2 separate regions of the Homo sapiens genome follow, and region 2 is linked to region 1. Evidence: fine-mapped expression QTL. A gene starts in region 1. The other region holds a variant in brackets. All regions are shown on one strand. Distances are between the middles of the regions.

Region 1 (5,000 bases):
TGTCAAGCTCTGTACGTGAACAATGGGCCCCATCAGAGGATCAAAAGTCACTAGAGTCTTCTCCCAATACCTCTTACCACGATCAGAAACCCTACTCCTTGACCCTGCCTAGAGGTGAAGGGGTGAAGGCATCTGAAATATCTATGATACATGGTCTAAGGGCTTCAAACTACAGTATGCAGGGTATTCCCTACAAAAGACACCATCCAGGACAGCAGTCCCCAGCCTTTTTGGCACCAGGGACTGGTTTCGTGGAAGACAATTTTTCCACAGATGAGGGTGGGTGGTGAACACTGTTCCACCTCAGATCATCAGGCATTAGTCAGATTCTCATAAGGAGCATGCAACCTAGATCCCTCACATGCGCAGTTCACAGTAGGGTTCGCGCTCCTATGAGAATCCAAAGCAGCCGCTGATCTGACAGGAGGCAGAGCTCAGGTGGTAATGCTCGCTTGCCCGCCACTCACCTCTTGCTGTATGGCCTGGTTCTTAACAGGCCACAGTCTGCGGCCTGGGGGTTGGGAACCCCTGATCCAGGATACACCAACTAGTACATTTCCAGGCAGAAACAAACCCTAGAAGCTCTGAGAGTGGCTCCAAGAGATCTCTGAAGTTATAGTGGCCTGTCTAGGACCTTCATTCGACCGAAGGCCAAGATGATCTGGGCAGTATCTGAGGTAAACTCTCAATGCATTCTGTTACCTCAAAAGTCTCTCCCAGAACACTCATATCTAGTCTATCCTTGTACAGCCAAGAGAAAGTCCTAGTTTCCCCCATCATTCTCTGGATGACAAGCTCATAAGGAGCTGCGGTAGGCAGTTACCAAGGCTGTCACCACCAGGAGAGACCTTTGGGGATACAGGGCCCCATGGTGTGGGCAGACTTGGAAGGATATGAACAAAGAGAAGATTTCAAAGAGAAAAACAATTCATCGCCTTGGTTGCAGGGTCTACCATCTATATAAAGTAGAGACGGTGATAATAAAAGCACTTTTTCCAAACTACAAAGCCCTCTTACTTTTAATATTTCTCACAACTACCTTAGGAGATGGTGTAGCTATTATCATCTACACAGAAGCTCAGAAAGATGTCACTCAACGTAAAGCTAGTAAGTGATAACGCTACAATTTGAACCCAGGTCTTCCGATGCTCAATTCCTCTCAGTGGGAATTAAGAACACCACAGAGGTGCTATGGTCTGGTACAAAACGAGGCTCTGGGGCAATCTAGGTTCTAATCTTGGCCCTCTGTGACCTAGAGAAAGTCCCTTAAGCTCTCTATGCCTCCATACTCCATCAGTAAAATGAGGGTAACACAATCTAGCTCTCTAGGTGCTACTTGTTAATAAGGTATTATTAACATCTTTACTTGAAAGGCCTTCCAATCCCAAAGTGTGACTGAAACAAACAAAAAACCAATTTGGCTGAGGAGCAGTGCCAGGCGGGCTGGCACACACCCCATTTGGAGCCAAAGGAAACAGAATCATCGCAGCAATTCTGTCCGGGTTCCAGAGGCCCTTGGCTACTGGATTCCTTACAAATGCCAAGTCCCTGGGGGCAGACAGGGCCAACAGACCTGCTTCATCACCCACCCCTCCAAAGGCACCGAGGCCCTAGAAGAGGTGAGAACATCTGCCTCCACACCGACCCCAAACAGCGCAGACAGGCGGTGCGGCGCCCACTTTCATGAAAGCCGCTCCATCTTCTCCTTCCCCACCTGCCACCTCCTCGGCTGCTCAAGCATCTCTCGACCATGCAAGACTCTACACAGACGTGTTTTGTCCCACCCACGCCTCCAGACACCGGGGAGAAACTCTAGAGGGGGAAGGGACTGCTGATGAGGGAAATGAAAAGAGTTTCGCCCACAAGGAGCTTACAGTCTAGACGAGTTTTTTGGCGGGAGTTTCTCAACCTACACAGCCCTTCCCACATACACACCTCCAAAATATCTCCAACAACCCCCGCCCCCCCAGATTTCCCCTCGGCACCCCCTGACCCCTCGCTCACCCACCCCATCCAGGTCCCCGAAGAATGAGGAGCTTCTGCAATTAGACTGTATCCCCTGCACCTCACACAAGATACTCAGGAGACAAGGAGGACCCCAGCCAAGGCTCCTGCTCCTTTAAGGGGGCACCTCTTCCAGAAGAATCTTGACCCCTCGGAGAAGAAAGGAGGGAAATAACATCTCCTCAGAGGGGAGGGGCGAGCGCACCAGAGACAGCCTGACGTGGAGTCCGACCCTCAGACAGAGAAAGCGAGCGCCAGCGAATGAGCGGGGCGGAGAGGCGAGAACCCATTGGCTGCGTCACCTGCCCGTCAGAGGGACCCAGGGGACCTAGGGCCGCTCAAGGGGCGGGACTCTCGTCTGGCCAGGCCAATTGGAAGGCGTGGCGGGGGCGGGGCTTAGCGGCTCGGAATCCAGGGCTGGGGGGGGAGACAAGATGGCGGCTGCGGGAGGGGGTCCTCGCTTCTCAGCTCCCCCGCTCACCCGCCTTCTCCTTCCCTGCCGCCGCCCTCGCTCCAGGAGAGAGCTTTCGCACCGCCCCCGCCCTGCTCGGAAAGCCCCCCGCTTCTCCGGTTTCCCCCCGTGCAGTCCCTGGTCCCCGAAGGCCCCGATGCCCCCGCCCCCGCTCTGTCCGGCCCCGCTGCCGCCCCCATTACCTCAGCCGCCTGCCCGGCCCCACCGTTCGGGGCCCCTGGGCGCGGGCGGGCAGGCCGCCGAGCAGGTCGGCGCGGCCCGGGAAGCGGAGCGCGGTCTTCTCCCGCGCCTGCCTCCGTGGCCTCCGCCGTGCCCCCTCCCGGCCCGCGCTGGGGCCCCGGCCCGGCCGCCGCCGCCGCTCCCGGGGGAGGAGGGGGAATGGAGCCGCCGCTGCTGCCGCTGCCGCCACGGAGCCCGGCCGAGGGGAGGGAGGGATCAGCCCCCAGGCAGGATCCGCCCCTCCGGCCTCCCCCCGCCACCTCCACCCCTTCCCTCGCTCCCTCCCTGACTCTGCGGGCTCTCCCGCTGAACAGGAGCGAGAGCGCGAAAGAGGGGGAAACGGGAAAAAAATCCCCCCGCCCGTGCCTGGCGCGGCGGCGGCCGGGGCGGTGCGGAGAGGAGCGCGGAGGCGCCGCCGCCGCCGCCACGGGGCACCATCCCCGGCTCGGCCTCACGGTGGCGGTGCGGGCGCGGCGGGGACACCGAGCAAGAGACCGGGTCTGCGCCCGCCGCGATCCCTGCGCACCACGGCCCTGCCCGCCACGGGGCGAGCCCGATAAGAGGGCTGTGGACGTTCGGGTCTAGTTGGGAGAGACAGGGGTCCCTGACTCTTGAGCGGTCAGTCATTTCCTCCCCAGTCCTTGTGGGTGACGTGGCTACGGTTTGGAGCAGCAAGCCCCCTCCCCGAACTAAAGGGCCTCTCCAAAGGTTAAGCCAGGGCAGTCATTGAGGTCAAAACCAATATGTAGTTTCTTGACTGCAGGTGCCTGCACGACTCCCAGAAAGTCGCGTCTCCCCTAACCCCCATGCCCAGGACCTGAGGACAAAGGTCTAGCGATTGTCCATCCCCTCCCCCAGTGAGGACAGCCGGGAAAGACCTGCCTTTGTTGTGTACAGGTGAGCGTCTTGTTCCGCACCACACATCTTTTAAAAAAAAAAAAAAAAAATCTGACTTTCCGTTTAAAAGGAGTAAACAAAAGTTTGACAGTCTGCTTAAGCATGCCTGGTAACTCGTCTGTCACTGTGGGCATGGGAAACACTTTAAACCTGACTTGGTTAATTTAATGCATTAGGCGGCTTTCTAAAAGATGCTTGACAAATGGCAGCATCAGACCAAACTGGCTTTTGTTTTGATCTAAAAAAACAAAAAAATAAAGAAAAGGGCTCCATTGCCACCCCCTTTTGCCTGTAAACTGGAAAGCTTACCTCATGTGACTGAAGTCTTAAGCACCAATACATAATGATGTTTATAAAGGACGTATGGATAAGCTGCCTGTAAATGTGAAGGTGAGTGACAGTTTGAAAGTGTTTCCTCTGCTGGCACTTGTGGTGTAGCTGGTGAGACTCAATTTCTTTCTTGGTTCTGATGATCAAGGACATGTATTCTAGAGTCAGAAGGATGAAGGATAAAGTCTTAGGATCCAAATTTTCTGAATGTTTAAAGTGAACATACTGCTACTTTGGAAGTATAGATGTTATACTAAGGAATTTAAATATAGAGAGTTTCAAATTCAAAAGTTTGATTAAGGAAGCTAATTTGTTTCCAAGTAAATAGCATCTTCTGGCAAAGAGATAGTACAAAAATGCTTCTGTTAACCAATTTTTTAAATGCAAGGGGGGTGGCTCGTGGAGCTAAGCAAGGGCAGGACAATGTTTTGAAAGCTGTGAAGATGAAATAGTATGAATTAATGTCAAGTGTTCTGAAGCTAGGGGGAATAATCATTTGGAGGGAAGGTGTGGAAGAAAAAGATGATTAATTGTGGAAGAGAAAGCCCCAGAGGCAAGAAAATATTGCAATTACAGTACTTGTAGTTAAGAAAAAAAAAGTCTGAAAACTAACAGAAACTATTAAAACATGAAATATAATAATCATTTATACATATGACTAGTAACTTTTATTTCTTGATGGATGTTCTCAAAATTTATTTAGCACAATTCCCATTTGCGTGATCAGGAGCTATCTTTTTCCACTAAAATGAATGAATAAATACCTTGAGAAAATGCATTGGTTTCTACTTGTAAGTCAACGATTTAAATGCTGTTGAAAAGGCCTTAAGTCAACCTAATGCATGTGATTTTTTTCAGGTTTTTCTATTCAAAGCTTTCATATTAAGACCTTATTCAACCTAAGTGTTTCTCTTCCATTTTCAACTTCTACTTTTTTAATGATATCATTACAGTTGCCCTCACTTTAATTTTTGACATTTGGAATTGGTTTCTACAAGCATAACTGCACACGTAACCAGTTCCCTGTGATGGAATCTTAAATGTAACATGGAACAATTATGTTATTAAAAACAAATTT
Region 2 (5,520 bases), 39 kb before region 1:
GAAGCCTGGCTGCACAGTGGAGCTTAATGGAAGTCATTCAACAAGCAGGTCTGGAGCAAACATCATGGACCAGCAGTACTGTGTGTTGGCACAGATGTGAAGCAACTATACTCTGATACGGCTTGGATATGTGTCCCCACCCAAATCTCATATTGAATTTTAATTCCCAGTGTTAGAGGAGGGGCCGGGTGGGAGGTGACTGGATCATGGGGGCAGATTTCCCCCTTACTGTTCTCACGATAGTGAGTTCTCAGATCTGGTTATTTTAAAGTGTGTAGCACCTCCCACTTTGCTCCCTTCCTCCTGCTTTGGCCATGTAAGATGTGCCTGCTTCGCCTTCCCCTTCCGCCATGATTCTATGTTTCCTGAGGCCTCCCCAGCCATGCTTCCTATACAGTCTGCAGAACCGTGAGCCAATTAAACCTCTTTTCTTTATAAATTACCAAGTCTCAGGTATTTCTTTATAGCTGTGCGAGATCAGACTAATACAGGTGGGGAGCTGTGCAAGATCAGACTCATACAGGAGGGGATATAAATTGAACACCAAATGGGAAACTGGCAGAATCCACTAAAGCTAAACATATATCTGCCCCGTGACCTAGCAATTCCACTCCTGGGACATACAAGCACTTATGTCCATCAAATGACATGTACAAGAATGTTCACAGCAGTGTTATTTATAACAGCCCTAAACTAGAAATAACCCAGTGCCCATCAGCAGGAGAATGGATACCCAAACTGTGGTGTGTTTGGATGATGGAATATTACTCAGCAACAACAAAAAGCAAACTATAGCTACATGCAAAACAGGGTGGAGCTCAGAGCCACAATGTTAAATGAAAGAAGCCAGACACAAAAGAGCGCAAGCTGTGTCATTCCATTTATGTGAAGTCCAAGAACAAGCAACACTAACCCACAGCAATGGAAGTCTGGATGGTAGTTACACTTGCAGCAGGGGTCCTGACTGGACAGGGTCATGAGGAACCTTCTAGGGCACTGGAAACATTCTGTATTTTGATTTGGATCACAATTTCATGGGTGGGTACACATATAAACACTCATAGAGATTAATCTTAAGATTTGTGTCCCAGAGTTACTGTATGTAAAACTATATCTAAAATATGAAAATACTCAAACTTCGGGGTCTGTTCCTCCTGCTCCTGACCTGACTACTCCACTAACTGGTCCTGACCTCGGAAGCATGTTGTATCTGCTGTGGAGTGATCTTCGTTCCCGATGCTGGTGGCTGTACCCAAAAGCAGAGGTGGGAACTTCTCAATCAAGAGGAGAATTATATGGCCATATGGTGGCTTCCTCACTCATTAGATGTTTGTACATGGGGCAGAATTTGGTCTAGGACTGAATTCCATGGAAATTTACCCAAGAGAGCAAAGTTGTTGGGAGGAAGATATATAGCTCCCATCTAATTTCAAATGCTATGGAGACTATCAGTATTTTAACAAAACAGAGGAACTAACAGGCAATGCTTGGTTTAGGCCAGTCCATGAACAACAGCAAGTGAGAAAAAGCCAGACTTAGGCTGAGGAGGCGTGGGGAGGACTTGCATCCCAGTCGTACCATGAATTTCCGCAGTGATGTCAGAGAGGTAACAGACTACTCAACTACCTAGTACAAGAAACTAAAATACATGCTCTACCTAGAAAAAACAAGAGACTATAAGGAATTACATTAAAATGGTAGTTTCTGTGTGGTCAGAAAAAGGGTAGTTCTTAATTTCTTTGCACTTAAAAATTTTCCCATATTACATACAAAAAACCCCCACGGATTTTATAATCTTTCCTGACCAGCTTAGATAAAATCTCCTTCAGGCGTCACTCTGGACTGTGAAGCTGAAGGGAAGGAGCCCACCCCTGGACCCTTATGTGATACTCCCTGCCCATGAGGAACCATCAACGTCGCATCCCCAGTATGGCTTCTCTATCCCCCAAACGGACGAATACTAGGCAGAAAGGAAGAGGAAGGGATTGAGACACGGCTTCAGGAGTTCAACTGAATCCACCCTCTTCCAACCAGCCTTACAGGTGTCAAGCAAAGGACATAAAATGTTCTCAGAAACAGCACCACGGCCCTTCTGAAATTTGGGGACAACTAGCTTTTTTGACTCTATGTAGCCTGTGATGGGGGTAGAGCTCAGTAGTAGAGTGTTTGACTGCATGTAGCCCGTGAGTCCTGGCCCTATTAAAGTTGAAGAGAATACTTATGTATATGTACACACACACACACACACACACACACGGACGTTTTTCGTCTATCCCCAATTACCTTCTGCCACCCTCGAAGGGAAAGGGCAGACAGAAGGTCACCCCAGGTGCCAGTGAAATGGGAAAAGTTCTCTTATCCCCCTCGCTGGGCATGCAATGGGGGTGTGGCTCACTTCTTTGGTACCCCATAGCTCAAACCCCTAGCGGGAGCATGCAGACAGGCAGGTCATGGGGAGTGTGGGCTCCGACCCCACTGCAGCGTCTAAGGTTTGAGTGTTTACAGCTCCCCAAGCCCCAGTGGGTGTGTGTTACATTATGCTCTTCTAGTTTAGCCATCCGCAGACAGCTTGTGTTAATCAGCTTAATTAGGCCCTCTGCCTTATCACAAGGACAGAGGGCTTTCTGTATCCTGGGTTCTTGCCTTGGTGTACCAGAAAAATAGGATCACATGTGGGCTTGGAGGATGGGTGCAAGGTTTTATTGAGTGGAGGTAGCTCTCAGTGAGGTGAATGGGGAGGCCAGAAGGAGGATGGAGTGGGAAGGTGGTCTTCACCTGGAATTGGGCTGCCCGGCAGCTGGACTCCGACCGCGCTGTGCCAAATTTCACGTCATCGTGGCGTCGTCGATAGCCTGTCGGCATCTGTTGGTGCCTTTCGGTGTGTTCTGCTTCTCTGGACTTCCAGCCGGCTGTGTGTGTGTGCCCGCTAGGGTCTCGGGGTTTTTACGGGCCCAGGATCAGGGGC[G/A]TGGCGGGCCAGAGTGGTCTTGGAAAATGCAACATTTGGGCTCAAAAACAAGGGTGCCTGTCCTCACCTAGGTCCGTGGACCAGGCCTGAGGGTGAAGCCCTCACCAGGGACCCCATTCTTCTCTACCCAGCACTTCCCTGCCCTTCTCTCGTATCACCAGGGTGGATCCAGCACTCCTCTCCAGCTCTAGCCCAGCACGTATCTCCCTGGCCCTTCTTCCTCATCACAGAGTAAGAAACTTCTGCCCCACCTTTTGGAGAAACCACTTCCCTCCTCCAAAGACCTCCTTCCCTCATCCCAGCTTCAGTAGAGGCCAGAAGGCTGCAGCCAGCAGGACCAGAGACCTGCACACTCATTGCCCGACTGCAGACACTGTGGGAGGCCTGCAGACTCAGGGTAGTCAAGGCCCACACCCTCCCTCTCTCCTTCAGCACTACTCCGAGCCTGGCAGTCTTGCCACTAGCCCCACCTCTTCTCTAAAAGTGAAACTCAGAGCCTAGCCAGGTCAGGAGAGCCCATCTGACGCACTGGCACATTCACACTCAGGTGCTAATGGCATCTAATATATTAATGGAAGCAGCCAAGCTGACAAGGGATTTTGGCAAATGCTTTCAATGATATTTTTTAACTTGTTAGGAGAATGGGATTCTCTATTCCGAGAGTCAGAGTGTCTCCAACACATGTCCCAATATTACAGTATCATTTTAGACTTGAGTTCATGAATTTCAGTCACATCATTGATAAAATTTATTAAGGACACTTTTGCCTACTTTGGGTAATATATAAGTCCGTGGAGAGCAGAAAGGGCTGAGTGGGTGCTGAGTTCTGGTCCAGCCCTGCCTTTTCCTGCCTTGTGATGCTAAGCACATCTGACCTGCCTTTCTCCTCCATCTGTGGCATGAGGGCTTGACATTCCCTGTGAGGCCCTCCCTGGAGAACAGACCCCTCAAAAGGTGCTGTCTCCCCCTTTCCCCCAACCCCAGACTCTAAGTGTAAGGGGCTTTCCTCATGTCTGTCCTTCGCCTTCCTTGCTGTCCTTGGCCATTCTTCTAACTGCCTAGGTGGGCTCCACTGTGCCCACATCTCTGTCATCTGCTCCCATCTTTCTCCTGAATTCTGGGCTCAACTCCCATCTGTTTGCTGGAGGTTTTTCTTAGATGTCCCATAGACAACACAAACTCATCAAAAAACCTACACTTTCTCCTCCCTTCAAAACCCACAGCGATCCCTCCAGCAGCCACCCAGCATCCTGTCTTAACACTCTTGCTTTTTAACTTTGATGTTTAGTTAGTTGCCAAGCTCCAATCAAGTCTCTGCCCTGTTCAAATCTTTCAATGGATGCTGCTACCTGCCATATATGAATGGCACCCACCTTGCCCTGTCTTTGGGATCCTTTATTACGTCAGTCTCAGAGAGGCCCAGGGTCACAGAGTGAGTGACAGTGACAGGGCTTTTAAGCCCGATATACTGCTCGCCACCTCGGTGGGTTCCAGTCACGTGGGAGGTCAGCTAGTCACTGGAGCTGGAATATGCACAATCTCTTTCTGAGCCATGACTTTGTCTCCTCTTCTTAGCCTCGCCTGCTAAAATCCTACCCATCTGGCCACTTTTATTTCTAAAATGGTTTATAGAATGAGCTTGTAATTTCACCCTAAATATTTTGTAAATATTTTGCAAACGTCTTTGTAATTCAACTTACAATTCATAAATAAAGTCTTTCCTAACCCCATTTGTCAAGGCTTGAATTAATTGCTGCTTCTGAAGGCTTTCATTACTCCCCAACCAAACATGTCTCTCCCAAACGCCTCCACATATCTGGGACCCTCACACTGGCCTTATGCGGCGTTATGTGAGATGTATCTTATAAATCAGGTTGTGAGTGTCTTGAGACCAGGGGTGTGTGTCTTTGCAGCCCCAACACGTAATACAAGGATTATCAGCACATTGGCAGTACTTTGTCAGTGTTAGGCCAAAATGAGAACTTTGACACTTTTTTGACTTCAATGACAAGGCTGTCAAAGGCCCCGTGGAGGAAGTGATCAAGAGACCCGAGTCCTCAGCCACACCGAGACAAGCATAGGAGCCAGGTAGGACCAGAATGGGATAGGAGTAGGGACAGGGGAAAAGCTATTCTATGCCCAGCAACCAAGCAGTTTGTCTCTGGGAACTCCCCTCTGCTTCTGCTCTTCAGGACATTCCTATCCAGAAATGCCAGAGCCACAGCCACTGAGAGAGGAACACGATACAGAATAGGCCAGTGGAGTCTTGAAATGCTGTGGAGCCCATAAACAAAGCCTTGGCCAGATCCTTGTCTCAGAATTATGCCACAGTTTCTTAGTTGGCTGACCTTGGTCTTTTAATTTTGCTGGTCTGTTTCCTTGTCTGTAAAATGAAGACCAGGTAGGCTTAAGGATGCCTTCCAGCTTTAAGAGGAGTGAGGCCTATATTCCCCTGTGTGTGTCCCAGCTACCCATCTACAGAATTAAAACAGCAGCAGTGACATAAGAGGTGTGAGCATCCTTGAGTCTCAAGTTCAGCAAGCTTGGTAAGTCAG

What was found. PIP is the estimated chance that this variant, and not a neighbour inherited with it, causes the effect.
Region 2: its variant is the best candidate, but not a certain one, in a credible set for the expression of BRPF3 in lung (TOPMed, PIP 0.70).

Annotation. Positions count from the first base shown.
Region 1 is chr6:36,194,629-36,199,628 of GRCh38, reverse strand. BRPF3 (bromodomain and PHD finger containing 3) reads right to left here and starts at 2,885. Exons shown (of 13, transcript NM_015695.3): 1 at 2,659-2,885. It overlaps BRPF3-AS1 (BRPF3 antisense RNA 1), which reads left to right and starts at 2,426. Exons shown (of 3, transcript NR_187147.1): 1 at 2,426-3,592. RefSeq lists an enhancer at 2,131-2,180 and a silencer at 2,531-3,270.
Region 2 is chr6:36,233,379-36,238,898 of GRCh38, reverse strand. No RefSeq gene overlaps it. Among named protein-coding and RNA genes, the nearest start is that of PNPLA1, 34 kb to the left of the region's middle. RefSeq lists an enhancer at 2,904-3,449. The variant G/A (reference allele first, on the strand shown) is at 2,966.